7 linked regions of the Homo sapiens genome follow. The protein of the gene in region 6 purifies or fractionates together with the protein of the main gene of each other region. This does not show direct contact. Each region holds a gene or a part of one and is shown on either strand. Other genes may lie near its edges.

Evidence for each region.
Region 1: the proteins of FSTL4 (region 6) and PCSK9 purify together in Homo sapiens (affinity purification with mass spectrometry; one large-scale study listed by BioGRID and IntAct). This does not show direct contact.
Region 2: the proteins of FSTL4 (region 6) and UXS1 purify together in Homo sapiens (affinity purification with mass spectrometry; one large-scale study listed by BioGRID and IntAct). This does not show direct contact.
Region 3: the proteins of FSTL4 (region 6) and MAN2B2 purify together in Homo sapiens (affinity purification with mass spectrometry; one large-scale study listed by BioGRID and IntAct). This does not show direct contact.
Region 4: the proteins of FSTL4 (region 6) and CHID1 purify together in Homo sapiens (affinity purification with mass spectrometry; one large-scale study listed by BioGRID and IntAct). This does not show direct contact.
Region 5: the proteins of FSTL4 (region 6) and GAS6 purify together in Homo sapiens (affinity purification with mass spectrometry; one large-scale study listed by BioGRID and IntAct). This does not show direct contact.
Region 7: the proteins of FSTL4 (region 6) and METRNL purify together in Homo sapiens (affinity purification with mass spectrometry; one large-scale study listed by BioGRID and IntAct). This does not show direct contact.

Annotation. Positions count from the first base shown.
Region 1 is NC_000001.11:55,056,548-55,060,474, reverse strand, and holds part of PCSK9 (proprotein convertase subtilisin/kexin type 9 isoform 1 preproprotein), read right to left. Parts: exon of another isoform or gene 3,670-3,927; intron 3,145-3,669; coding exon 2,961-3,144; intron 2,440-2,960; coding exon 2,266-2,439; intron 1,977-2,265; coding exon 1,828-1,976; intron 1,032-1,827; coding exon of another isoform or gene 990-1,031; coding exon 812-989; intron 1-811.
Region 2 is NC_000002.12:106,145,704-106,149,630, forward strand, and holds part of UXS1 (UDP-glucuronic acid decarboxylase 1), read right to left. Parts: intron 1-3,927. UniProt on the Homo sapiens protein: Catalyzes the NAD-dependent decarboxylation of UDP-glucuronic acid to UDP-xylose. Necessary for the biosynthesis of the core tetrasaccharide in glycosaminoglycan biosynthesis.
Region 3 is NC_000004.12:6,581,294-6,585,220, forward strand, and holds part of MAN2B2 (epididymis-specific alpha-mannosidase isoform 1 precursor), read left to right. Parts: intron 1-3,927.
Region 4 is NC_000011.10:893,742-897,668, reverse strand, and holds part of CHID1 (chitinase domain-containing protein 1 isoform a precursor), read left to right. Parts: intron 1-3,927.
Region 5 is NC_000013.11:113,825,833-113,829,759, reverse strand, and holds part of GAS6 (growth arrest-specific protein 6 precursor), read left to right. Parts: intron 1-1,048; coding exon 1,049-1,213; intron 1,214-2,595; coding exon 2,596-2,764; intron 2,765-3,927. UniProt on the Homo sapiens protein: Ligand for tyrosine-protein kinase receptors AXL, TYRO3 and MER whose signaling is implicated in cell growth and survival, cell adhesion and cell migration.
Region 6 is NC_000005.10:133,399,313-133,403,239, reverse strand, and holds part of FSTL4 (follistatin-related protein 4 precursor), read left to right. Parts: intron 1-2,253; coding exon 2,254-2,502; intron 2,503-3,927.
Region 7 is NC_000017.11:83,077,774-83,082,478, forward strand, and holds the start of METRNL (meteorin-like protein isoform 1 precursor), read left to right. Parts: upstream 1-1,835; 5' UTR 1,836-2,042; coding exon 2,043-2,212; intron 2,213-3,372; exon of another isoform or gene 3,373-3,665; intron 3,666-4,161; exon of another isoform or gene 4,162-4,298; intron 4,299-4,705. UniProt on the Homo sapiens protein: Hormone induced following exercise or cold exposure that promotes energy expenditure. Induced either in the skeletal muscle after exercise or in adipose tissue following cold exposure and is present in the circulation.

The sequences.
Region 1 (3,927 bases), on a different chromosome or scaffold from region 6:
CTGCTGTGCCCAGAACCAGGTTCTCACCCTCACTCTCCTGTTCCCAAACCCTCAGTGGTTCCCCTGGACGTGCTCAGACGAGAATCAACTCTGAGCCTCTTATTCCAGGCTGGAGTCCCACTGTCTTCCCAGACCTCTCATGCTCCACCCAACCAGAACAGCTCAGCCTCAGGGCACCATCCCTTGATGCCCCAAGAGGTCCCCATCTGTGACTTCCTGCTACCTGCCTGGGCATGTTTTCGACACAGGGTAGCCCGTCAATAGTTGCCTATACCAGAGGCTGGATTTTAAAGCAACGGGTGATGAAAACAATAGTAACGATAGCTAGAATTTATATTGTCCCGGCACTAAGCTAAGTGCTTAGCACTCATCATTTCCTCATACAGAGATGTTAAGTAATTTGCCCAAGTCACACAGCTATAGAGCGGCAGGGTGAAATTCAAACCGAGGTCTGCCCTCCTTTCAGCCCCAGCCGGGGGCCTCTCTCTGGAGCTGCCTCTCCTGGACTGCACCACCTTAGGCAAAGCACCTGCGATACTCCAGGCCAGTGCCCTAGATGCTGCCCATCTCCTTGCAACACAATGAGGCAGGTAATACCTTTTTCCCTCTTATGGAGGAGGAAGCTGAGATGAGGAGAAGTAAGGTCACCTGCCCAGGCTCAAAGGGCATGGAAGTGGCAGAACCAGAGTATGGAACTGCAAGTCAGGCTTGAGTCTCATGGATCACACTTGTGAGGACCAAGCCTCGCGGGCAGTGGGTGCATAAGGAGAAAGAGACCCCTCCTCACCCCAGGGCAAGCCCAGCCTCCTACCTGTGAGGACGTGGCCCTGTTGGTGGCAGTGGACACGGGTCCCCATGCTGGCCTCAGCTGGTGGAGCTGTGTGGACGCTGCAGTTGGCCTGGGGTAGCAGGCAGCACCTGGCAATGGCGTAGACACCCTCACCCCCAAAAGCGTTGTGGGCCCGGCAGACCAGCTTGCCCCCTTGGGCCTTAGAGTCAAAGACGGAAATGGGAATCTGCTTTAGAATGGGCTTTGAAAACACAGAAAGGGACTAGACAGGATCAACTCAAGCACCCTCATCAGTGTCCCTGCCAGGGGCCAGCCAGACCCAGCCTTCTGGGGACAAGGAGCTCACTCCTGCCCAAGGAAGACTGTTCTGCCAGTGGGCAGCTCTGAATACTCAAAAGTTCTTCCAAACACAGAGTGGTTTCAAAATGGAGATAGAGAGAAATCCAGGAGGCCAAAGCAAGGATCCAGCCAGCTCCACTCCACCCACTCTGCCTCTCACACGAGCATTAAGACCCCATCTCCTCAAGCCAGAAATGCCTGCCCCTCCTCACTCTCCTAGCTGGGCACTGCCCTTCCACCAAAATGCTGCAACCAGATGGCATCTGTGCACTATCCTGTAGCATCAACATCAATTCCACTTTTTTGCTGGTTTGAGATTTCTCAGCTCCCAGAACCATGGAGCACCTGAGTGAGAGGGGCCTAGAGATGGCTGAGTCCAGAGTAGCAGATCGCTGACCCTCACGCGGCCCTGCCGCACGCTCACACCCAGGTGAGCATTGAAAATCCATCCAGCACTGTCCTGCAGCCTCTAGGAAACCCTTCCCGCTGTGGCTCTCTCCAGCAGCCCCCAGCCGCGTGAAGTGAGGAGTGCCCCACTCCTGGTCTGGCCAGCCCTGTAAGCTTACAGAAGAGCTGGAGTCTGGAGGATGGAGGGGCTTGCTGGGGGTCCCTGAGGGCCCAGCACTGACACACACACACACACACACACACACACACACACACACACACACACACACACGAAGGAGGGGTACAGTCACCTCCATGCGCTCGCCCCGCCGCTTCCCACTCCTGGAGAAACTGGAGCAGCTCAGCAGCTCCTCATCTGGGGCGCAGCGGGCGACGGCTGTGGCCATCCGTGTAGGCCCCGAGTGTGCTGACCATACAGTCCTGCAAAACAGCTGCCAACCTGCAAAAAGGGCCTGGGATGAGGAGGGGGTGCTGGGAGTGAGGGGACCTCCACAGAAATCTTTAGTTCATGGTAGGAGAGAGGAGGGCTTAAAGAACATACTCAACTGTCTCTATAAAAACACGTTATGAAAATATTGCACAGCCCTTTCAGAGCCCCATTCTCATTTAATCCTATTTAAGGTGGCGTCATCCTCCTTACACAGACAAGGGAGAAGGGAGAGACTGTCAAGGTCACACAGACCTCCCAAGCCCCAGCCTGGACTTGCCCACCCTGCCATCCTGCTTACCTGCCCCATGGGTGCTGGGGGGCAGGGCGGCCACCAGGTTGGGGGTCAGTACCCGCTGGTCCTCAGGGAACCAGGCCTCATTGATGACATCTTTGGCAGAGAAGTGGATCAGTCTCTGCCTCAACTCGGCCAGGGTGAGCTCCGGCTCGGCAGACAGCATCATGGCTGCAATGCCTGGTGCAGGGGTGAATGGTGAAAGATGGTGATGGCCCGGCCCTCCTGCCCCAGCAGGGGACTCCTGCCAGTGCACACACGCACACACATACACACAAACACACGTGCACACAGACACTAAGCTCTCTTCTCGAAGGTAAGCCGCCTGCAGTCCTTACTCAGTGAGGTAAGACAGCCTCCTCTCACACCTCTAAGCCTTGGTAGTTGCTGTCTTATCGGCCAGGTGAACTCCTATTCATCCATCAAGCTCCCGATCAAATGTCCCTCCTCCAAGATGCCTTCTCTGACCCTCGGGCTGGGCAGGTGCCTCCTCTGGGCTCCCTCTAATACAGCCCTGACCTCGTGTTTCCTCTGTGCACTCGCCTCCCTCATCAGACTGAGTGTCCTTGAAGGCACCATCAGGCCTACTTCATCTCTGGTCCCCCTGCACAGAGCCTGGCACTGGAGGTCCCGGCACAGACCCTGACTGCCAAAGGGGCTGTTAGCATCACGGTGGCCGAGGCAGTGGGGTGGTGACTTACCAGCCACGTGGGCAGCAGCCTGTGATGTCCCACTCTGTGACACAAAGCAGGTGCTGCAGTCGCTGGAGGCACCAATGATGTCCTCCCCTGGGGCAAAGAGGTCCACACAGCGGCCAAAGTTGGTCCCCAAAGTCCCCAGGGTCACCGGCTGGTCTTGGGCATTGGTGGCCCCAACTGTGATGACCTGGAAAGGTGAGGAGGTGGGTGGCAGAGAAAGGAGCCCAAGAGAGGGGTTGCAGAGGCAGACTCAGGCCTTGCCAGCTGGGCTGGACAACTGCTATACACCTGTTTGGGTCCCACTCAAATGTCCCCTCCTAAGGAAAATCTGACTGCCCAGGCAGAACTCTGGCACCCCTGCCCCGCCCTGGTGCTCCCCTCTGTCCCTACCATAGCCAGGCAGCATTCCCAATGCCCCTGTGGAGTTTACATCCTAGTGGGGGAGATAGGAAACTATTCGGTGTATCAAGTGGTTCTAAGTGCCACGGGGGGAAACTGAGAGGACAAGGCAGAGATGTGTTGGGCTTTGTTTGCTTGATGCCTTTAAATTCGGCCGCCAGGGAAGCCTTGATAGGCCAGGGGGGACCTAGGTTACCGCTGTCAGGTACGCATCTGCTCTGCAACCCCCACCCCCAACGCGCGCGCGCGCACGCACACACACAGACTTGAAGTTCCAGACTTGAAGTGGAACAAGATTCCTTCCCCTAGATACCCGCAGTGTCCTGACACTGGAGGAGTGGTGGGTCAGAGGAGGGACGGTCACTGCCCCCCAGCTCCTCAGGGCCGAGGCTCCGTGTCTGTGTCCCCGCAGCCACACTGCACCGGGCATGCGGCACACTCTGTGGATGTTCCTCGGGTGAGAGGTCTGAGCCCTCAACCGCTCCCATTCACATTAGCCTTGCTCAAGTTGTCAGTCATGGAGCCGCGGAGAGAGCTGGACAACAGGGAGGCCCAAAGAGTATTGGGCAGA
Region 2 (3,927 bases), on a different chromosome or scaffold from region 6:
CTGGACATAGCTCACGTGGCTTTAATATTACTGCTGAGAACTTTAAAAATTACTTTATAGAAAAAACGATTAGCAAAATGCAGAGATTTGGTGAACTACCAAGAAAAAAAAACTTAATATTTAAGTTAGATTCAAAAACTGCAGGAAAAACAAATATCTTTTAAATTGTTTATGAGAACAAATTAATAAGCAATACATGCTGTTTGTAGACTAAAGCCCTAAACGCCTAAGTCCACTGTGTGGTTAATTTCTGAATGGTGATGTGAACCCAGTGTGGTATACACTCCCAGCCACAGAGCACGATGAGGCAGCTGTGAGGGGTCTTGACGGTAACTCAGTAATAACAAAACCTAGACCCCTGCAAAGGTGAAAAGTCAACTGCGCTTGAAAAATACTTTTAAGTTGAACACAGGTATTTTATTCAAATTAAATGGTGTAACTGGAGGAGGATAAAGGGAATTTCATCTGGGGGAAGGTTATAGGCGGTGGGAGTGAAAAGAATAGGCTCAGAAAACAGACGTGCCATGCACAACTCAATTCTCTAGCCTGCTGTATCCTGTTCTCCACTCTGCCTTCTCTTCACCAAAATTCTCATTCATTTCACCCTTCTGTTTCAAACGGAAAGTATTAATAGGAAGACAGCAATCCTTTCTACCTAAAATAAAAGGTATACAAACTCCTAGGTCTATGGTTTTAAAACATGTAATTCTCCATGAAACTCCTGTTTAAAATAAATGAAATCTCACACACGATGAAGTATTCACCACGGTGAGAGAGTAAAGCCACCTGGATTTGAGTGGAGTGGTAGCTCATGCCTGTAATCCCAGCACTTTGGGAGGCCGAGACAGGTGGATCACTTGAGATCAGGAGTTCAAGACCAGTCGGGCCAACATGGTGAAACCCTGTCTCTACTAAAAATACAAAAAATTAGCTGGGCGTGGTGGCACACTCCTGTAATCCCAGCTAGTTGGGAGGCTAAGGCAGAAGACTCACTTGAACCCAGGAGGCGGAAGTTGCAGTGGATCGTACCACTGCACTCCAGCCTGGGTGACAGAGAAGACTCCATCTCAAAAAAAAAAAAAAAAAAAAAAAAGAAGCCATCTGGATGAAAAAGATCAAAAATGGCAGAGGAGAAGTAAGGGGAGGCTATAAACTAAAAATGAAATTTGGGTTGGGTGCAGTGGCTCATGCCTGTACCCAACACTTTGGGAAGCCAAGGTGGCTGGATCATTTGACGCCAGGCGTTCAAGACTAGCCTGCGCAGCATGGTGAAACCCCGTCTCTACTAAAAATACAAAAATTAGCTACACGCCTGTAATCCCAGCTACTATGGTGGCTGAAGCACAAGAATCACTTGAACCTAGGAGGTGGAGGTTACAGTGAGTTGAGATCACACCACTGCACTCCAGCCTGGGTGACAGAGCGAGACTCTGTCTCATAAATAAATAAATATCCTAAGTCCCCCAACTGAGTGGGCCCCCTCTTGGCCAAACGGAACCCCAGAGAAACCTGAAAAGCTGAGTTCCCAGCAGTGATGTGAAAGGAGATTGGACATGCCTCACTATACTTTCTCTTTTGGAATTTAGACACAACTGACCAACGTTAATATTAAAACAGAGATCATAAACAGGACCTAGGGTCGTGCCAGACAGGAGCTAAGTCACATCCCTCCAAGTCATTCTGACCCAGTGTATTGGTGAACAGACTTCCTTGTCATAACTTAGATTCCTTTCTGCTGACTCCAAAGTTTTACACAAAGATTTACTCCTTTAACCAATTACAAAGTAAAAAATCTCTAAAGCCAGGGAGGTCAAGGCTGCAGTGAGTGGCAATTGTGCCACTGCACTCCAGCCTGTGTGACAGAGAGAGACCCTGTCTCAAAATAAATAAAATAAAATACAGAATCTCTTAACCCGCCTATACCTGTGAGCCCCCACTTCAAAATAGCCTGTCTTTTTGGGCCAAACCAATGTAAAAGCCCTATATATTGATTTATACCTCCTTGTAACTTCTGCCTCTCTAAAATGTATAAAACTAAACTAATCCGCCTGCCTCGGGCACACTTACTCAAGGCTTCTTGGTTTTGTGTTTCCTGGGGCTGCAGTTACTCATACTGGATCATAATACACCTCTAAAATATTTTAGAGTTTGGTTTTTCAGTTAACAAGGCCAACCTCAAGAATAACCATCCCTTAACCACCACATAGATATTACATATGCTCTGATGAAATGCAAATCAAATGGTTAAGACAGGATGGGTGAGACCAGGCATCCTCATGCTCGATAGCTTTCATTTGGCTTTACCAACAGCACCATTTTCCAAATCCCCTTTGCCTTCAAGATAAGAAACTGACACCCAGAGAAGTTACGTCTTTGACTAAAATCCTCAGAGATCACTAGCTGGGACACACTAAAGCTACAGTCTTTCTAATTACACGCTCTCTACTGCCTGTCAATTTGTCTGGTTCGTGTTTCATCTTAAGAGCTCCCACATTCTACTGCTATACCTGAACAATGACTATGAAAAACGATTTTCCAGAAAAATAATTGAAATTCAAAGTTGACTCACCACTAGAGCTTAACTCACGGGATGAGATTTCATTTTATCTTCACGTTATTGCATTTTTTCCAAGTTTTCCATGATTTTTACATTTAAAAACTTGCAACTTTTAAAAAGAAATGTAACCCCTTTTAACATAACTGTTTCTCTATATGCAAATATTTCTGAAAACAAAATGTTCAGTGGCACTCTAACATTATCTCTGCACCCAAAATACCTGGCAGACAGTTCTGAGATATCAGAGATGCAGCGTATTAAATTACACATGATCATCTCCAACATCTCACTAGTCTTAGTACTGACGTAAAATTGTTGGAAGCACCTTAGCTTGACTAAAATGCACTGGAATTTTTTTTTCTGAAGTAATTTCCTTCTACCTAAAATACTTAAGATTTATATAATATAGCTGGATGGTTATGCAATTTTTTATCCTAATCAATGTTAGCCCATTAGGCAAGTGTTTCAAATAGAAACAAATTTGGTGAAAGCTTAGCACTTACAAAGCTCTATCAGGAACACTAATCACCAAACCCAAGGATATTCTTTGAATAACAAGGAGCTAATACCCAAAAGAGAACAGGAGAAAAGAAGTAAGACCTCTTACACTGAGATGGATTAGAACTTACACGGCTTTGCATGGCTTTCCAGTATAGGGGTTTGTCTCAGTGTGCTTTCTTGCTCGCTCTTGTGGGTGCCAATAGGCAGCTAAAGTGGTCTAGTTCAAGGTCAGCAGTCAAACTCATGATGCTTAGCAAATTAGCAAAAAATCAAAAAATGTATTTCAAAGCAAGTCTCCTCTTTCTGTTGAAGCTGTCCTAAGGCTTACCAATTTACTGAAAAGGCTTTAAGTTATAGCAACAATATACCAGACTCACATGCCAAATGCCTCAGAAATGTGCTTAACCTATGAGATGGCAGATGAGGGGAAAAAAAAAACTAAGTCTGTTTGCTGTGGTGATGTGTAAAGCAAAATAAATTCTATAATACTCAGCATCGACAGGAAGATCATTCCATGTGCACATAATAAAATTCATGGCAAGATTTTGCAGCATTCCTGTAACAGTGCTGCTGTGCTTTTAACGTGTCCACCAAAAGCACATTTTGGTAATTTAATCCCCAGTGCAACAGTGTTAAAAGGTGGGGTGATTAGGCCATGAGGTGAAGTAAATGGATTAATGCCATTATCAGAGGAGTGAGTGTGTTATCGTGGAAGTGTGTTCCACATAGAAGCACGAGTTCAGTCCCTTTGGTCTCTCTCTTGCTCTCTCTTTACCCATCCACTACGTGATGACATAGCAAGAAGACCCTCACCAGGTCACAACCCCTTGATCTTGGACTCCCCAGCCTCCAGAACCATGAGCCAATAA
Region 3 (3,927 bases), on a different chromosome or scaffold from region 6:
TCTCTTAGTTGCCTCAGAACAGCCTGGTAGCAAGTGGTACTGTTCACAGCCCCATTTGACAGATGAGGAAACTGAGGTACTGAGAGATGCGGGATTTATATATATGCAGTAGGTAACAGAACTGGCGCTCAAGCCCATGTGTGCCTGGCCTGGGCTCTTTCCTTAACTTGTAGTCCCTAGGGCGGGGGCAGAGTGTGTGTATCAGACCACCCATCTCAGATGTCCCAGGCATTCTGGCTGTGAATTATGTCCACATTGGGCTGGTTTTCTCAGATATGTTGGGGTAAGAGGGGCTGGATCACCCCTCACTGCTTCCGGGCCCTTTATCCTCCATCTCACCTTGGTGGAGCCCCTGCCTCGAGGCAGGCCCTGGACAGCAAAGGAAGACAGGAGCAGGCTGGTGCAGCCTCTAGACCTCTGACCTTCTTCTTCGGGTATCTAGGGTGCCAAAGCATCTCCTCAACCAAGACCCACTCCTGGCTGCCCGCCAGGGCCTGGGGCACTGGGCCTGCCCGTAAGCTCACCTTTCCAGCCTTTACCTCCCCAACTCCTGCTCCCGGCAGTCACGCCAACACCACCTTAATTTTAGATGTGACATTTCTAGTGAGGGGAAAAGCATTTGTTCCCAGCACTGCAGTGTCAGGGAAAGGCTGGGTGTGGGCAGCGGCCCCCGGGGGTAAGAGCTTTCATGCCCCTCCCTGAGGGGACACTTTCCCAGCTGGGATGTTTAGCGGAGGCCCAGCAGAGTGGCAGGTGCCAGAGGGAAAGAACCCCTCACCCCTATCCTGAGGGGAGAGAGCCCAGCTCCCGCCTCAGAGGTGCTGAGAGGCAAAGGGTCCAGGTGAGAGTCAAGGAGACACCTTGGGCCATCCTGGATGACCACTGCTGTCCTGGCCATTCAAACCCAAGCTCTCAGCCCTGTCCCCCAACCCCACTCCCTTCCCACTGAATCCGCGATCCCTCTCCTGTGTCACAGACTCTCTTCCACCTTCTCTTGTCTCTCTGACTCCTTCCAGCAGTATTTAGTTGTTGTTGTTGCCGTTGCTGCTGTTGTTGTTGTTGTTAGACAGAGCCTCACTCTGTCACTCAGGCTGGAGTGCAGTGGCGCAATCTCGGCTCACTGCAATCTCTACCTCGCAGGTTCAAGCAATTCTTATGCCTCAGCATCCTGAGTAGCTGGGAGTACAGGCGTGCACCACCATGCCCAGCTAATTTTCATATTTTTAGTAAAGACAGGGATCTCACCATGTTGGCCAGGCTGGTCTTGAACTCCTGACCTCAAGTGATCCGCCCACCTTGGCCTCCCAAAATGCTGGGATTACAGACCTGAGCCACCAAGCCCGGCCCCCAGCAGTATTGAAAACACACTTAAATTGTCTCTCTTCAAAAAAAAATTTTTTTTAACATGGGGTCCACTGTGTTGCCCAGGCTGGTCTTGAACTCCTGACCTCAACATCATAAAGCAAGACCCTCCAGCTCAGGCTGTAATGGCATTTATTCCCACCACCCCCTCACCCCCCACCACCTCCCACTACTTCACCCTCAGCCCCTGCATCCTGGCCTCTGCCCTGCATGTGCTAGTGAGCTTGCTTGTGGCCTGGTCATTATACTGGTGAGGATACTGGTTCAGCAGCTTGAACAGAGACCAAGTGACTCCAACAAGAAGGAAGGTGTGTTTCTCTCCTGTGGAAGTCTGCAGTGCAGGCCACTCTGGTGATTGGGTGGCTCTGCTCCATGGAGTGACCCAGGGATCCACGTTGCTTCCATCTTGATGTTCAGCCATCCCCCACAGTGTTGCCTGCCTGAGTTGCAGTCTAGACTGGCTCACCCCACTGAGTTGTCCTTCCAGCAGCTAGGGGATAGGGAATGGTGGAGCCAGGGCAGGCAGCTTCCTTGTAAAAGGCGACCTAGAACCTGCCCACATCACTCCTCACATTTCCATTGGCCAGAACTTAATCATATGGCCTCCCTCAACTGCAGGGACTGCTGGGGAATAGAGTCTATTTTGCTCCCAGTCCATTGGCCAGAGTGGTGTCATGTGACCTCTACCAGTTGCAAAGGAGGCTGGGGAATGTAGTCTCTGGCTGGGAGTCCATTTGCCCTGCTAAAACCAAGAAGGAGTGTGTGGTTCTGTTACTAAAAGGAAGAAGGACAGAATGTATATCGGACGCCAATTAACAGTTTTGGTCATGAATCACCCTGAAGTCTCAGGAATGCTTTCTGCTGGACGGCCAGAAAACCTAAGTAAAGCTGTTAGTGGTGGAAGGTATCCAAGTTACCAGCAGCTAATCCGTACGGGTCTGCAGCAACCCCAGTTCTTGCCTCCTCGGAAGAAAGAATTCGACTGAGGGGCATAAGGCAGAAAAAGAGACTGAGGCATGTTTCAGAGCAGAAGTGGAAGTTTATTTAAAAAGGCTTTAAAATGAGAAAGAAAGGAAAATATGCTTGAAAGAGTCCCAAGTGGGCACGTGAAGGTCAAGTGCTGTATTGATCCTTGATCCTAGGACTTTATAGGCTGGTCCCCTTTCCCATGATTCTTCCCTTAGGCTGGGCTACCCGCACTCACAGTGCCCTCCTTACCCTTGGGAGGTGAGCACACGCACTGTGTTTAGGAAGTTGCACACATGCCCATCTGACGCTTTCTTCCCTTTTCCAGTGGAGTGTCCCTGGAAGGTCAAACTCCGCCATTTTGTCTCTTAATGCACCTGCTCGGGAAGTCACGTCTCCCTGGCACCTGCATTCAATTAACATGTTAGTGCAACAGGTGTGGACCATCAGGAAATGCCCTCTCCCTAGTGCTGGCTGCCAATTTCTCACTTCTAGAGAGGCAATGTGATAATTGCCAAACCATCACCCAACATTCCTAGTGGGTGGGGGAAGAGCCCTCCCCTGCCCCACTCATGCTTGTCTAACTACCTGTAACAAAGCGACTTGAGTCTTAAGAACATTTACTTAACAAGATGGGGATAGTTTGGGACTGGTTCTGCAGTACCTTGATATCTGTGATTCTCATGTCCTTACCCTTGTGGTCACGATATGGCTGCCATAGCTCCAGCCATCATGTTACCAGACACCACATTCAAGGCAGTAAAAGGAAGAGAGGGGGCTTTCTATACCCATAGTCTATTCTGTTGGATAAACTTAGACACACTAAAATGTTAGCATTTATTTGAACAAACAGTGATTCCTGAATCAGGAAGTACTAGACTGTGAGCAGTTCATGGCTCCACTAAGGGAATATGAGAGGGAAACGTCTATAAGGTGCTCCTGAAAGCAAGACAAAGAAAACATTTGCCTACAGTGAACAGTCCCTAGTTAGAGGTTGGTTGGCAGTTTCCGATGGGTCAAGCTTAAGTTCTCTTTTCCTGTTTCCACCAAGTTAGATTTGGGTTTGCTGACAGAGGAACTCGAGGCCTGGAGCCGGCTCAGCCTGATGGCCTCCCAGTTCATTACTTAACAATGCCCCTCCAGCTGCCAGACAGAGAGAACCAATATCTGACAGGAGGGAGTAAGCGTGCCACATTTGGCTTAGATCAACTGTGATTCGTCCCTTGAGGCTGGGCATGGTGCACCCTGAACAGAGGGAAGGTTCTGCGAGTGAAAAAGGGGTGCTGACTTGGCAGCCTTCAGCCTGCCCCCACCGGCTGCCCTGTCTGGTGCGAGGCCGTACCCTCCAGAGCTCCTGGCTCCTCTCAGTGCGGTGCTGTTGCCCACTCCCTCCTTCATCCTGCAGCTGGCACTCCCCCTGTGCTCCCCCCACCCTCTGGCTGCTCCTTCTCCATCCTCTCTGCTTACATATGCACAGCCTCCACCCACACTCCTAGTCCACGCTCCCCCTGATCCCCTCTCACCTCTGCTGTGCACCTGATGCCAGCCCCACTCCTCACCTCCCACAGTCATCCCCTGCCCTGTCTTGCTTGGCCTTGC
Region 4 (3,927 bases), on a different chromosome or scaffold from region 6:
GGCGCACTGCAGTGGGGGTAAGGATGTCCGCAAGGCTATGGGGAGCCTGTCGTCTGCACAGCCTCTGAGGGGCCCCAGCTTTGCCGGAGGATCAGGTGCCTGCGTTCCTGGCTGAGGGACAATCCCAGGCCCTGCCTTGGGGGGTTCTTGCTGAGCCGTGGGCAGTGGACCCTGCCGGGGCTGACCTTCCATTACCCTCTGAGGAGAGGGGTGTCTCAGCAGGAGACAGAGCCCGCCTGCTTCCAGCCTTCTCACTAATCCTGGGAGAGTGGGTCTATTAACCAGAGATTTGCCACACTCATTTCCGTTTCAGAGCATTAGGTAGGCAGTGAGATGGCACCAGAGGCTCCTCAGGAGATAGCCTCTTGTCTGGGGTGGAGGCTGGAGGTGCTGAGACAGCCTCGTGTCTGGGGTGGAGGCTGGGGGTGCTGAGACAGGCTCGTGTCTGGGGTGGAGGCTGGGGGTGCTGAGACAGGCTCGTGTCTGGGGTGGAGGCTGGGGGTGCTGAGACAGGCTCGTGTCGGGGTGGAGGCTGGGGGTGCTGAGACAGGCTCGTGTCTGGGGTGGAGGCTGCAGGTGCTGAGACAGGCTCGTGTCTGGGGTGGAGGCTGCAGGTGCTGAGACAGGCTCGTTGTGTCGGGTGGAGGCTGGGGGTGCTGAGACAGGCTCGTGTCTGGGATGGAGGCTGGGGGTGCTGAGACAGGCTCGTTGTGTCTGGGGTGGAGGCTGGGGGTGCTGAGACAGGCTCGTGTCTGGGGTGGAGGCTGGGGGTGCTGAGACAGGCTCGTGTCTGGGGTGGAGTCTGGGGGCCCTGAGACAGCTTAGTTTCTGTGGTGGAGGCTGGGGGCCCTGAGACAGGCTCATTGTGTCTGGGGTGGAGGCTGGGGGCACTGAGACAGCCACACGTCTGGGGTGGAGGCTAGGGGTGCTGAGACAGCCTCACGTCTGGGGTGGAGGCTGGGGGTGCTGAGACAGCCTCATGTCTGGGGTGGAGGCTGGGGGCCCTGAGACAGTTTCGTGTCTGGGGTGGAGGCTGGGGGCACTGAGACAGGCTCATTGTGTCTGGGGTGGAGGCTGGGGGTGCTGAGACAGCCTCACGTCTGGGGTGGAGGCTGGGGGTGCTGAGACAGCCTCACGTCTGGGGTGGAGGCTGGGGGTGCTGAGACAGCCTCATGTCTGGGGTGGAGGCTGGGGGTGCTGAGACAGCCTTGTGTCTGGGGTGGAGGCTGGGGGTGCTGAGACAGGCTCGTTGTGTCTGGATTGGAGGCTGGGGGTGCTGAGACAGGCTTGTTGTGTCTAGGGTGGAGGCTGGGGGTGCTGAGACACCCTCATGTCTGGGGTGGAGGCTGGGGGCACTGAGACAGCCTCGTTGTGTCTGGGGTGGAGGCTGGGGGTGCTGAGACAGCCTCATGTCTGGGGTGGAGGCTGGGGGCCCTGAGACAGTTTCGTGTCTGGGGTGGAGGCTGGGGGTGCTGAGACAGCCTCGTTGTGTCTGGGGTGGAGGCTGGGGGTGCTGAGACAGGCTCGTGTCTGGGGTGGAGGCTGGGGGCACTGAGACAGGCTCGTTGTGTCTGGGGTGGAGGCTGCGGGTGCTGAGACGGCCTCGTTGTGTCAGGGCTCGACGGGTCATTAACGTCAGGGTGGGAGGGCAGGAGGCAGTAGGGGGATTGCTGAGCCGGAGTGGCCACTGCAGGGGAGGACGGTTGGGAGCAGCCTGCGAGCACCTCGTGTCCAGGCTCCTGCAGGAAGGTGGGGAGCTGCGGGAAGGTGGGGAGCTGCAGGAAGGTCGGGAGCTGCCAGCATGGCAGGGGCAGGCAGTATCCAGGCTCCTCAGAGCAGCTTGGCAGATTCCTTTGGGCATTCTGCTGCCTGGGAGCTGCCTCAGCACAGTCCTGCCTCTGACCACCACTTGGGACCCCAGCCCGCATTGTGCCAGGCCCGAGACTGGGCTCAGCAGGTTCGGTCCCATGCACTGGGCCCTGGACAGAGGCTCAGGGGCAGCTTTTCCTGCAGAGTTTGTTGGCAGTGCCCTTAGAAGGGATGTTGCTGCCTCTGGTCCCTCCTGAGCTCTGGATCAGCCCCTTACAGTTGTCCGCATGCCCAGAGGGGCTGTGTTAGGGGCGCTCGGAGCCACCAGTGCCAGCAGCTGGCAGTATGAGGGGGTCTGTCGTGAGGAGCGCTCCGGGCAATGCTGCAGCACTGTAGCTGCAGCTCACGTCGCCTCCGGGGCCCATGTTGTCTCCTGGGGGCCTGGGTAGACCTGACTCACACCTGTCCTCCTTGAAGGCCAGCTCTGGGCCACACCGTGAGCCTGACTGTGGGTGGACACCCAGGCTCCCTGGGCCCCTCACAGAGTGGCTGGGGGCACCTTTTGGCCCTCAGGTCTGGTGTGGCCCTGGAGGAAGGCCATCCCACCACCATCCTGGGGAGCTGTGGGTACCTGCAGACAGCATAGAGCCCACAGGCTGGGAACCAGGCAGGAGACCCCCAGGTAGGGTCAGCTTCCCCAGGCATCTGGGCAGGGCTTACTCTGCTCACTTTGCTCTGGTGTTTCAGGGGCGGGGGCAGCACCCTCCTTGACCACCACCTCTAAGTGGCGCACAGTGTGTGACAGCCTCTGGTACCCATAGAGTTGTGGACACAGCTGCAGAGGCGTGAGGACGGGCTGCCCAAAGACACTGCTCCCCACTGAGGACTGTACCTGCATTGCAGCCGGCAGAACTAACACCAGATGATGTGGGCCAGAGTTACCCAGGAATTGACGGGGGCTTGGCTTGGAAAATGACAGTCCCACTTGGGCCATGTCAGGGAAACAGGAGCTGCCACTATGCAGCAGTTGCACATGCCAGGCCCTGGTCCTGGCACCATTGGGAGCACCAGGGCCTCTGGGTACTGGCTGAGGAACCGTCACCTCGTCCTGACCTAACCCGGTTCTCACTGAGCCCCACAGAGGCTTGTGCTGGAGTGGGGCGGGACCTGGGGCCACCAGGGGCCGGCTCTTGCCCCACTCTCAGTCCTCCTGTCATCCCCTAAGGGGTGGGTCTCCTCCCCAGATGGGGCTGCTCCCAGGGGCCTGCAGCGTGAGAGTGACAGTCTCCTACGTGCGGTAACAGCCAGAGCCTGCCCAGTGTGGACGTATCACCCTGAAACCCAGCTTTGCAGCAGCATGTGCTCCAGGCCAGTTTCTGCAGAGGCCACCTGCAGGGTAGACTCATGGGCACCAGCGTGTGCACACGGCCGGCCTGGGGTCCTGACGGCTGCTCCTAGGCCGTGCTAGGAGGGAGGCTAGTGCCATCCCTTGGGGAACACTGCCAGCCTGCTCTGAGATGCTCCTGCCCCCTCCACCTCCAGGGGCCAGAGGAGGCCTAACTGCTGCTCCCTGTCTCCTGCCCTGCCCGGTGCCCTGCCCTCTCCTTCCCTGAGCTACACCAGGCAGGTGGGGCCCTTGGAGTGCCCTGCGGCCACCCTCGGATCAGTGTCCTGGGCCTGCTGGGGGCCTTTTCTTACCTGGTGTGTCCTTTTTTTTTTTTTTTTTTTTTTTTTTTTTGAGACAGAGTCATGCTCTTCAGCCCAGGCTGGAGTGCAGTGGTGCGATCTCAGCTCACTGCAACCTCCACCTCCTGGGTTCAAGTAATTCTCCTGCCTCAGCCTCCTGAGTAGCTCGGATTACAGGAACCTGCCACCACACCCTGCTAATCTTTGTGTTTTTAGTAGAGGCGGGGTTTCGCCATGTTGGCCAAGCCGATCTGGCCTCGGGTGACTGCCCACCTCGGCCTCCCAAGGTGCTGGGATTACCGGCGTGAGCCACCGTGCCCAGCTTTTTTTTTTTTTAATCTGCCATGTCTTTAGGTGTCTAAAGTGTGATGTACACACGTGGGGCTGTCTCTGGTTGTTGGAGCCCCTCTTTCTGGGGATTCCTGGGGTACT
Region 5 (3,927 bases), on a different chromosome or scaffold from region 6:
TGAGGATCAGGTGGACTCCCTGAGGTCAGGTCCCTCTTGGCCCAGGTGAGGATCAGGTGGACTCCCTGAGGTCAGGTCCCTCTTGGCCCAGGTGAGGATCAGATGGTCTCCTTGAGATCAGGTCCCTCATGGCTCAGGTGAGGATCAGGTGGTCTCTCTGAGGTTGGGACCCTCTTGGCTCAGGTGTGGATCAGGTGGTCTCTCTGAAGTTGGGACCCTCTTGGCCCAGGTGAGGATCAGGTGGTCTCCCCGGGTCAGGTCCCTCTTGGCCCAGGTGAGGATCATGTGGTCTCCCTGAGATTGAGACCCTCTTGGCCCAGGTGAGGATCAGGTGGTGTCCCTGAGATTGGGACCTTCTTGGCTCAGGTGTGGATCAGGTGGTCTCCCTGAGGTCAGGTCCCTCTTGGCCAGGTGAGGATCAGGTGGTCTCCCTGAGATTGGGACCCTCTTCGCCCAGGTGAGGATCAGGTGGCCTCCCTGAGATTGGGACCCTCTTGGCCCAGGTGAGGATCATGTGGTCTGCCTGAGATTGAGACCCTCTTGGCCCAGGTGAGGATCAGGTGGTCTCCCTGAGATCGGGACCCTCTTGGCTCAGGGGAGGATCAGGTGGTCTCCCTGAGGTCGGGACCCTCTTGGCCCAGGTGAGGATCAGGTGGCCTCCCTGAGATCGGGACCCTCTTGGCCCAGGTGAGGATCATGTGGTCTGCCTGAGATTGAGACCCTCTTGGCCCAGGTGAGGATCAGGTGGTCTCCCTGAGATCGGGACCCTCTTGGCTCAGGGGAGGATCAGGTGGTCTCCCTGAGGTCGGGACCCTCTTGGCTCAGGGGAGGATCAGGTGGTCTCCCTGAGATCGGGACCCTCTTGGCTCAGGGGAGGATCAGGTGGTCTCCCTGAGGTTGGGACCCTCTTGGCCCAGGTGAGGATCAGGTGGCCTCCCCGAGGTCGGGACCCTCTTGGCTCAGGAGAGGATGAGTGTGGTTTTTCTCAGTTGGGAGCCCCTTCAGAACGTGCACTCCCATCTTTTCTCATGGCGCTGCCTCTCTTCAGATCTCTGTTGAGGAGCTGGCGCGGAATCTGGTCATCAAGGTCAACAGGGATGCTGTCATGAAAATCGCGGTGGCCGGGGACTTGTTCCAACCGGAGCGAGGACTGTATCATCTGAACCTGACCGTGGGAGGTATTCCCTTCCATGAGAAGGACCTCGTGCAGCCTGTGAGTACTGTACCTGTCCCTGTGTAGACGCGCCGTGTGCTGGGATCCCGGGAACGGTGTCAGGAAGCCTCAGTCACACCCTGCCCTGTGTTTACCATTAACCAGGTGTGAGGAGGACCTAGAGGAAGGAAAGGTTTCCTAGAGTTTGACAAAGTCGCCGTACAGCTATGTCATTAATTTTACCATCTCTTTTTATGAGACCTAAGTTTTCATCTGAATTGATAATAAAGTTGTCTATTTTTCAATGGAGATAAGACACAATTAAATTATTATTATTTTTTTTGAGACGGAGTCTTGCTCTGTTGCCCAGGCTGGAGTGCAGTGGCGCGATCTCGGCTCACTGCAAGCTCCGCCTCCCGGGTTCACGCCATTCTCCTGCCTCAGCCTCCCAGGCAGCTGGGACTACAGGCGCCCGCCACCACGTCCGGCTAATTTTTTTGTATTTTTAGTAGAGACGGGGTTTCGCCGTGGTCTCGATCTTCTGACCTCGTGAACTGCCCACCTCGGCCTCCCAAAGTGCTGGGATTACAGGCGTGAGCCACCGCGCCCGGCCGAAATTATTCTTTAACAGAACAGTAAACTTTTTTGGACAATTTCCAAGAACATTTTGGGTTTTGTAACTCTGCCGTGAGTCTCATAAGGGGAAAACAGCCATGATGGGCGGTCAGTGTGGGCCATTGCTCCAGGTCCCGCCTTCTCTCCCCTTCAGCACAGCACACGCCCGTGCCCCCGACCTGTGTCTCCAGCCCCCACGTGCTGACGTCTAAGCCGTCATCCTGGGTATTTTCACTTCCACACCAGGCAGGAGAAAGGCACGCATGTCTTCGCGTCTTTGGGTGCTGAGTGTCGGCAGTGCCTGTGCTGAAGCCACCCCTTCAGTGTTGTGAGGGGCACCTGCTCCCCAGGCCCACAGACTGCCTGGTGCCGGGACCTTCGGTGTTGTGAGGGGCACCTGCTTCCCAGGCCCACAGACAGCCTGGTGCCGGGACTTTGCCTGGCTGGACCCTCCTCGTTTCACAGATAAGGGGGTTGCCCTGATTTGCCCACAGCCATATTGAATATTGAATAATTCACATGAGTGTTGGATGGTTGAACAATCCATACTCTTTGACCTTAGACCCACATGGCCTTTTCAGTCCTTTCCTAGCTTTAAAATGAACCTTTAGTTCTTGAGCATACACCAGTGGAAATAGGTATTCTGCAGTGAGGCGTTGTGTAAAGTGAAGAAACCTTCTGTGAAATGGCCACCACCGATGGGACTGGCCCGTTTCTGCCGTAGAGCTGCACATACCAGGGCCGCGAAGGCGCCACCCACCGACTGGGGCATCCGGCATGGGGCTTCTCGCTCCCAGGAAGCCACGGAGATTTCTCTGCCTTTCCAGATAAACCCTCGTCTGGATGGCTGCATGAGGAGCTGGAACTGGCTGAACGGAGAAGACACCACCATCCAGGAAACGGTGAAAGTGAACACGAGGATGCAGTGCTTCTCGGTGACGGAGAGAGGCTCTTTCTACCCCGGGAGCGGCTTCGCCTTCTACAGCCTGGACTACAGTAAGTCTTGGCTCTTACCGTTGGGGTGGCTGTGGCTGCACCTTCAGACAGGCATACGCTGAAAGCAAGCAGACGGCCTCAGATGGCAGCGTCAGGACAAGCTGAGGCTCCTCCGGTTCCGGGGCAGGGATGGGTGGGCGGGGTGGGCGGAGGTGCGGGCAGAGGCCCACCTCTCAGGATGGCCATGCAGGTCACTCAGTTCAGAGTCAGCCAGTGAAGAAGAAATGAGAGAGATGTGCCGAGAAGGTGCCTGCGAAGCCAGTGCCAGGAGGCCGGGGAGAGAAGGTGCCTGCGAGGCCGGCGCCAGGAGGCGGGGGAGAGAAGGTGCCTGCGAGGCCGGCGCCAGGAGGCCGGGGAGAGAAGGTGCCTGCGAGGCCGGCGCCGGGAGGCCGGGGAGAGAAGGTGCCTGCGAGGCCAGCGCCGGGAGGCCGGGGAGAGAAGGTGCCTGCGAGGCCGGCGCCGGGAGGCCGGGGAGAGAAGGTGCCTGCGAGGCCGGCGCCGGGAGGCCGGGGAGAGAAGGTGCCTGCGAGGCCGGCGCCGGGAGGCTGGGGAGAGAAGGTGCCTGCGAGGCCAGCGCCGGGAGGCCGGGGAGAGAAGGTGCCTGCGAGGCCGGGGAGGCTGGGAGCCTTACAGGGTCCTTTGCAGAAAGTCCGGAGACAGCACAGCCTTAGGACTCGTCCAGGGGCACAGAGAAGCTCTCGGTAACATGGTGGACACCGTGGTCACCGATGACCCGGTGAGACAGCTACAATGGGAGGTGTGTAAAAACAGCCGTGAAGCTGCCTGGGGGACAGTGAACCTAGGCCTGAAAAAGGGAGGACAGGGTGGATGTGAGCTGCTGGCCCAGTCCTGTGACGCCACGCTGCCGCCCTCCCCAGTGCAGGCTCCGGGGGTGCTGCTGTGAGGATAGTGTTACTGCTCGGCCCCACCCTGCCTCACATTCCCACCCCACGTGGGCCCCACTGGGGCACCACAGCCCTGCCCTATTCCTGGACACCGAGCCGTTTATGGTGAAGCCCCCACACGCACAGAGGGCAGGCAGCGCCCCCTCCGTCAGATCTCAGGGCTGCCGGCCCTCAAGCACCCAGCAGGAACCCCAGGTTCAAGGGGATCCACGCGGAGCAAAGGGGAGGGTCCTGCCCCGTCCTGAGCCAGATCCAGTG
Region 6 (3,927 bases):
CAAAATGGGCAATTAGTGGGTTGCATCCTATCTGCATGGGAAGGTTATTAAAACAGTGATCCCATGGCAATGCTCTGCGTCCTGGCCCTGTCTTGGGAGAGAAACAAAGGCTGATATTTTCAGAGCTGTTAGTTTCTTCTAGTAGGCGCCAGCACTTTCTAGGGTAACCCATTTTCCAACAACCCAGGAGAATCACGCTAATCAAATATGCTCCATGGCAAAGCGGCCATAAACACCGTGAGTGGGGGGCCTCCAGCCCAGAGCCTCCCTGCCAGGCGCCTGCCTGCCTTCCGCCTCCTTCCCTCCCCGCCACCATCAACCTTGACAGGAAGGCGTGCAGAGGGGCCGCTGAATGCCACTGGGCCTTCATGGTGACATGCGAACAATTAGCAAAGTGGATAAAAGAGATTCCCGCCTCCTTAGGATCTGCACTTTTATACTGCTCAGAGATATTTGACCTTCTAGTTTATTATGATTCAAGAAAAAGTCAATACTTCTTAGTTTGCCAAGGCTGGAGGAATTTAAATGAATTATTGAATCAAGCAGTTAATCTGCCGATAACTGATTTTTTTTCCTTTCAAATCTGTAATGATGAAAAGCAGACTTAACCAAAAACAAGAAAAATATATTTTTTTCTTTTTTTTTTCTTCTTTTTTGCTTAGACATTTTAATCCCATGGGTAGGACCCGGGGCTAAAAGTTTGGTCATGATTACTAGGGCCATTCTGTCTTGCTGAGTATTTTGATGGAGATTTAATTAACACTTAAAGCAAAGTCTTCTGAGGCTGTAAAAATCTGTATTCACATTTCAGTTGTCTTTTGGTGTCCCTGTGTAATTCTCAACTTTCCATCTGTACCTTTAGTGACATGTGCTGATTATCTCATTTCCAGACTCCCAGAATGCAGTGTGATGTTGGTGATGGACGCCTGTTTCGCCTTTCACTTAAACGTGCCCTTTCCAGCTGCCCTGACCTCTTTGGTGTGTGAGCTCTGGGTGCTGCTGCCTGAGATCACTGTGGGTGTTGTAGGGTGCAGGGGACACTCAAGCAATGTGGCAGCGCCCGTTTCCAGGGGCTCAGCCTTCTTGCCCATAACTGCAACATTGTGCTAGAAAGGACTGGGCTGTGGGGAAAGGCTGCTGGTGTCTCCCCTGATGACGTGTGTCATGGAGAACCACATTCTCCCCCAAGGAAATGGCCAGCCTCTGGTCTCCCTACCTCGGCTACCCCCACCCCCATCCTGAACACTTGGAGCATGACTTTCTTCTTATGCCACGTTTCCTCCCTGCAGTGACTCCCCAGTGCCTACAGTAGTGTACCTAAATTTCTCTGCTTGGCTCTCCAAGTCTCCCAGAAATCACACCTTGACCCCCAACCCCACCACTGTACAAAACTCCTACTCACATCTAGTCTTCTACCTGAGACCTGCAAATGCCACCCACAGGGCGGCTGGGGGAGTCTTGGCTCAAGCCTGCTGTGTTTCTGGGAAAACCTTTCTCTCCTTTGCAGGGCCCACTGGCACATCACCCGCTCCATGATCTCCGCCACTCCCAGTTACTTCTTCCAAACTTAGCTCCCTGGCTCCCATGCTCTTTGCCTGATCTGCATACATGTCACCACCTTACAGAATGACAAAGTCAGAAAGAGGGAAAGGTATGACTTGTTCATCTTTGAGACCCCTAAGGTGCCTAAGACACAGCCTGGTCCAAAGTCATGACATAGTAAAGGAAAAGAAGGAAGGAAGGAAAACGTATTGCAGGCAGGGGGTGGAGGGGACCACTTTTTTAAAAAGTCATTGATTTTAATAGGCCTCTAGTCCAGGAGGCTGACTGTGAGCCTGGGAGCAGTAGTGGCAGGCTTTGTCCTTCTGTGCAAGGTGCTTCTTTGTGAGCACGGAATAGCTGGGTGTTTTCATTTTTCAACTGGAAGCAGGAAAAGTAAGCCTAAGAAAGAACCAAGAGTTGATCAAAAGCCCCCAGCTGGGTCCTAGGTTGGAAAGGTGTTGTGTTTCAGATGTTCAGAGTGAGTCAGCCATGAAACCTGAGCTCTGCAAGGCAGGACACCCTTCTTGGCACCAATGACCACCTCATGGAGGGACAGGGACTCCCTAGGAGACCCCAAGCCCCCAGGCCCCACCTTGAGTAGCTTGGCTGCACAGGCAAATGGAGTCTGTGCTTGTGAGCTACAAAGGAAGCCCTCGACCCCAGACCCTCTGAGTGTTTACAGCTGACCCTCTGTGTTTGTGTGTCTGGCAGGGCTTTCCAGCCACAACGAGCTGCTGGCCTCCTGCGGGAAGAAGTTCTGCAGCCGAGGGAGCCGGTGCGTGCTCAGCAGGAAGACAGGGGAGCCCGAATGCCAGTGCCTGGAGGCATGCAGGCCCAGCTACGTGCCTGTGTGCGGCTCTGATGGGAGGTTTTATGAAAACCACTGTAAGCTCCACCGTGCTGCTTGCCTCCTGGGAAAGAGGATCACCGTCATCCACAGCAAGGACTGTTTCCTCAAAGGTAGGAACAGGGCCCTTGCCCTGTGGTTTTGGGTTTTGTGATGGGTCTTCCAATGCCTTTTTGACAAGTGACCTGGGTGCTGAGTCTACAAGTTACATATGTTTAGGAAATAAAGACAAAGACTGGTGTGTAACAAAATAGCAGCAGTGGCATTTTGGTGATGCATACTCTGTGTCCCACCTCCAGAGACCCCTGCCCTTAGAGGAAGCTCCTTGGGGAGTAGAATCCAGGCAGGTCAAATTAAAACCTGGCTGGTACAGGTTCACTAGGGACCAGGCAACAGGGCACTACCCAGGTCTCCACATAGGACGGGCCTTTGCAAGGTTGTGACAAGGACCATGTTTACCCTTCTGCACAGAGTCCCATGAATCAGGAGGCTGTGCTGTGCATAGAATGTGGTCAGGCAGACACCAGCGCAATGTCTTCCAGCGTGACAAGGACACAAACTCTGGCCTGGGGCAGTTGTTGATGGGAAGGCATCCCATGTCTTGCCTGTCCAGAACACCTCTGAGCAAGACAAGGAAGCCCCTGCATGGACATCAGAACATGTCTGTGGAGCTGGGGCCAAGGATTCATGCTTTAGGCTGAGATTGAGTCAGAAAAGAAGGGAAGTACCAGCTCCCACTAGACGGTAAGAACCATTAGGGCAGCGGCTATGGCTGTCTTATGCGCTTATGTATTAGCACCTAGCACTGTGCCCTGCACCAAGAAAATGCTCAATGGCTCCCAGATGCTTGAAGATACAAGGGTCAGAATGCACATCCTGGGTTGATTGATGTGGCCCTGGTAAATAGTACATGCCATGGCCTGTGGAAGTATTTATTGTATACAAATATTTGTGTACAAAATGGGTATACATGAATTAGGAAGTGTGTAGAAGACAGAAGCAGCTTGCAGGCAGATGGGAACAGGCCCACATAGCCTGAGCTACGAGAGCCCACTTGGAGTTATGTGAGGTCAGGAATGTGCTTTAGGTTGCACAGGGAGGAGAGGAGGAGGCTTGGACTAGACACCTGCCAAGTGCCTGCAACACTAGAAGACAAAGGCGTGAGAGCAGTCCAGGCTGTAAAGGCCTGGGCACCAAGTGGGAAGGGGCAGAGCTCCTGCCTCACCCTCACAGAACCCCACTGAGGATGGTATGATGCTGACACACCTGAGCGGAGGCGGATTCATGGCTGAGGTGGTGGAGCAAAGGTGTGTTGGCCTCTGTTACATCTATCTGTGTCACCTGCACCCACCTAATGGGCCACTCCACTCAGCAGTCGTGGCAGCATAGAGTGCTAGGCAGGGCAGGGCTTGGGAAATGTGCCTTTACCGGGTGATGACAATAGTCTTGGACACTTTCACAGCTGTGCTTATGATGCTAATGCCAAGGTGCTTCAGAGATCATGAGACACATTATGGAAATGAGGCCAAAATGAGCCT
Region 7 (4,705 bases), on a different chromosome or scaffold from region 6:
CATGTCCGCATCTATAACTCAAGAGATCCCAGCACTGCCCTGCCTCTTCCGTGGTGTGATGATCTGGACCCTGATAGGCCATGTGGCCCTTCAAGGGTGGACCGGGCCTGGGGGGGCTGCTATCTTATGCTTGGTGGGCATGGAAAGCAGTTGCTGCGCACAGGTGTGAAGCCGCAGGTCCCTTTCCACAGCAGGTCCCTTTCCACAGCAGGTCCCTTTCCACTGGGCACCCTGGTACCTGCAGTGATGGGGGTGGGGGGAGGTGCACTCCTAGAGCAGACGGGGGTGGGTGGGGCAGTCTCCAAGCTCCGAAATGCACCTCCACCAGACCTTGAGCCTCAGGGTGATGTCACTTGATGTGCTGGGCAAGGTCCTGGCTCCAGGCTTTCGATGGGGTGGGTGCTCTGAACAGATCCTTACAATGAAACTACCTTCAGTGGTCACTGTCATCGCCTTCCAGTTCTTCAGACCCTCACCCTTGTCCCAGCTTTCCTGGGCTGGGGGCTGGGCTCCACCTGCCTTTGCCGGTGACTTCCGTCCCTGCAGACTCACAATTTTCAAAGCCCTCTCCCCGCCTCCTCTGGTAGTCACAACCCAGTTATTCAGACTTGCACAGGTCGTTCGCAAGTCCTCCTGGAAGGTATCTTGGCTGGAAAAGGGGACAAGGCCAAGCTTCCCCACCGCTGGATGCTGCGCTCGGCTCTGGAACTGACACCAGGCGTCTCGGGCAGGGCCACTGACCCGCAGCACACAGAAGCCAGCTTTGCCATCGCAGCGGGGACCGCCGGGCGGGCCAGCTCCGCCCTCTCCTGCCTGGGGGGCCCTCGGCACCCTCTGGCTCCCCTTCTCTGGCCTGAGTCTCTAGGGCCTCCCCAGTCCGGGCGGGGGTCTCCGCTGTCCCCCCCACTGGGTCAGGCACGTGGTGGCCGCGGTGACCACCTGGGGAAGGCGCCGACTCCGAGGAACACACTCGAGCAGGACGCTCCGCAGGTGATTCTGCCCCGCGGGCACGGGGTGGGGGCGGGATTTGGCCAAATCTGCAGAGAGTTTAGGTTGTCAAAGCTGGGGCGGGGGTTGCTACTGATACCCAGAGTGCGGGGGCCAGGGTGCTGCCAACATCCCACCATGCGCAGGACGTCCCCACCCCAAGAACCACCCGGCCCCGCGTATCCGGAGCGAGGAGTGGGCAGCGCTCGGCAGAGGCCCCGGCGCGGCGGCTGCACGTCCTCCGGGAGGAGGGAGGGAAGCCGGGCTCACCGCCGGGCCTCCCCCCCGGTCAGGAGGGAGCCGGGAACTCCCGAGGCACCAACTCTGCGGAACGCGGGGCGCCCGGATCGCCCCTGATCACCGCCCGCTGGCGAGGCGCGGGGGACCCAGAACCGGCGGGGCCGGGAGCCTCCTTTACCGCTCCGCGCCGGGGCTGCCCGCAGGATGGGGCGCAGGATGGGGCGCAGGATGCGGCCCCGGCACCGCCTCGCGGGGGTCTGCGGGGGGCGACCGCGGCTCGCGTCGGCCACTACTTGGGGGTCTCGGGTTTCCGCCCCGCCCTCGCCTTGCAACCCCTCCGGCCCCGGACTCCGCTTTCCAGGCCGGGCTCTTCCCTCCGGACCCCGCTCGCCGCCCGGCGCGGCCCCCTCCTCCTGCAGCGCCCCCCGCCCCGGCGCCCGCGCCCCCGATTCGCTGCTGACTCGGTGTCTGCGCGTCCGGCCGGGCGCCCCGGGAGGAGTTTCCGGCGCGGGGCGGGGTCGGGGGCGGGGTCGGGGGCGGGGCGGGGCGGCGGGTGGGCCCCACCCCCCAGCTGAGCCCGGCCGGGCGGACTCGGACTCGCCAACTTCAGAGGCTCGGCGGCGGCGGCGGGCGCGGAGCTCTGCGCGCGGCTCCAGCGGGCCGGGATGGGCGGGCGGCCGCGCGGAGGACGCGGGGGGCGCGCGACGTGACCACCCGGACTCGAAGCCCGCCCCGCCCCCGCCCGGCTCGCCGGCTCCGGGGTCTGCTCCGGGGGTCGCGGACGCGGGGCCGGGCGGCGGAGCCGGCGCCAGAGCATGCGGGGCGCGGCGCGGGCGGCCTGGGGGCGCGCGGGGCAGCCGTGGCCGCGACCCCCCGCCCCGGGCCCGCCCCCGCCGCCGCTCCCGCTGCTGCTCCTGCTCCTGGCCGGGCTGCTGGGCGGCGCGGGCGCGCAGTACTCCAGCGACCGGTGCAGCTGGAAGGGGAGGTGAGTGTGCGCGGCGCGACCCCGGCCCGGCCCCCTCCCCTCGCGTCCCCTCCCGTCCCGGGCCGGCCGAGCGTGCGGGGGCGCGGCCGGGGGCGGGCGCGGGGCAGGGGCTCCGGGGGCCGCTCTCCAGGCCCAGTCCGGTGCCCGCTGTCCCCCGCCCCCGGTTCTAGAACAAAAGAGCCCGCGGCGTCCCGGTTCCCGGCCCGGAGGACGCCCGGGGGAGGCGCGCCTGCAGCGCGGCCGGGTGGGTCCCGGCTCCGCGCGTGTCCGAGCCTCGGGGGCCGCCGGTCCCGCGACCCCATCCCGGGGGCAGGCGGGGGTCGGTCCTCGGGCCCTTCCTGGCAGGCTCCGGGAGTTGCGCGCCCCGAGGCCGCCCCGGGCCAGAGCGGGAAGGGACGGCCGCGGGAGGGAGCGGCGGTTTCGGGGATCGGGCGCGGACCGCAGCGGGGGCCACTTCCGTCTCGGGGAGCCGCGGGCGGGCACCTGTGAGCCGGGCCGAGTGTGGCTCCGGCCGGGCCCCCCGCCCCTGCCCCGTGAAGGTCAGGCCGCCCTTGGCCGCGGCGCGCGCTGCGCTGGGCGACCCCCCCCCCCCCCACCCGCGGTGGCGGCCGAGGACTTTTTTTTTTTTTTTTTTTTTTTGACTCAAGCGTGGCCGCCGAGAGCGGCGCCGACCGCGACTGCCCCTCGGGAGCCGCCGCCGCTCCCACGCGAAGCCCAGGGCGCCGAGGGCACCGCGGCCGAACCCGCCCTGCGCGAGCCTCGCAGTCGCCAGTTCCGGGGTTCGCAGATGCGCGGGGACCCGAGTGACGCGCGCCTCCCGGAGAGCCGTGGCCGGGCTGGCCCGGGCCTGGGTCCCGCTTCCCCTCGGCGCGGCCCCCGCCCCCGCCCCCGCCCCCGCCGCGGGCCGAGTCACGCGGTGATGTCGAGCGAAGCTGTTTTCCGAGAAGGTCGGGGCAGAGCCGGTGCGGGGCGGGTGGTGTCCGCGGGGCGGGCGCAGGTCTCCCCGCAGCCGCAGCCTCCGTTCCGGGTCCCCGCGAAGCCACAGTCGCCCCCCAGCGCCCCCGGCGGAGCCTCCCCGGGGGAAGGGGCGTGGCGCTGGGGGGCAGAGTCGCCCCGAGGGCCGTGGGCGGTGCCCGGCTGTCCCGGGAGCGGCCGCCTCCCTTCTCGGCCGAGCGGGGCCGCGGGCGGATGGAGGTCTGGGGGGGGTCGGCCGGGAACGCCGGCGCCGGGAGCCTCCGAGGCCGACGGCTCTTCTGGGGCCGCCCCTGCCCCCGCGGAGTGATTCAGCCCCGGCTCGCTGCCTCTGCCCGGCGGGTCGGTGCATCCCCGAACCGAGGCCCGGGGCGTTCCGCTCCAGCAGACCGAAGCCAGAAACGCCGCCCCCGCCACCCAGGCCGAGTGTGTCGAGAAGGGGCCGGCGCCCTTTTCAGGGTGTCAGGGGACTGTGTGCCCGGTAGGAGGGGGCGCCTCCCGGAGCCCGAAGGGAGGGCGCGGTAGGCAGCCGAGGGTGGCGGGGAGGCCACCCCTCCACCTCCAGGGGCGGGCGGCTCCTCCAGGCAGGTGACAGCAGCGGGACAGGAGTGCTTTGCCCTCCAGGACCTGCGCACCCTCCTGTCTACCTGGAGGCCCTCTTCGCCATCGTTGCCAGTCCTGGCCTCAGACTCCCCAGAGGGGACCCCCCCACACACACACACAGGGGACCCCCCCCAACACACACACACCTGCAGAGCCTGGCAGAGGGCAGCTGTGGGGGCTGCTGGAGCTGCGGGTGTGATCTGGAGGGGACACGGGGCCCGGCTGTGTTTCTGGGGCGTAAGTGAGACTTCCTTTTGTTGTGGTCACTGCCCCGTTGATCCACACACGTCACGAATCAGTGACAGAGACTCGCTGTGGAAACCGGAGTGCGCTGGCCTGCCTGCTACCCTCCGGTGTTTGTGACTTTTTACCAGCTGTCCTGACGAAGCACAGGGTGGAGCGAGCGCTGGTGTGCTGGGTGGATTCTCATCCCCCGATAGCTGGAAAGTTGCCCCTCATGACACTGGCCACTGCATCGACGGCCTCTGTTGCTGGGTGTTTCTTCTAAGCAGTTAAGTAGGAGATGATGAAACCTCCCTTCCGTGGGGGGAGGCGGGACCAGCGCCCCGTCTTTATCAGCCAGTGCTCATAAATGTGGACCATGAACTTTCCCACTTGCTGTCAGCCCGGGCATCGCAGGTGCGGTCACACCTGGTTCGTCTCTCCTGCAAGGTGGGGAAAGGAAAGTTAACCTGCCAGTGGGTTCGAAGCCCTTCCTGACTTTCATACAGGAGCCGGGCATTTTGTCCTGGTGACCCAGAGTTGTGGTGTGTGGGCTGGTGCCTCAACAACCCTCCAGTGCACCTGCGCCCCCCTTCAGTGAGTCCCTTTATCCACTTGGGATTTGCCCTCCTTTCCATGAAGGTGCCCCACAAGCATGTCCACCTGGGTGGTAACCCTTGCTGACTTTTAAAAGTG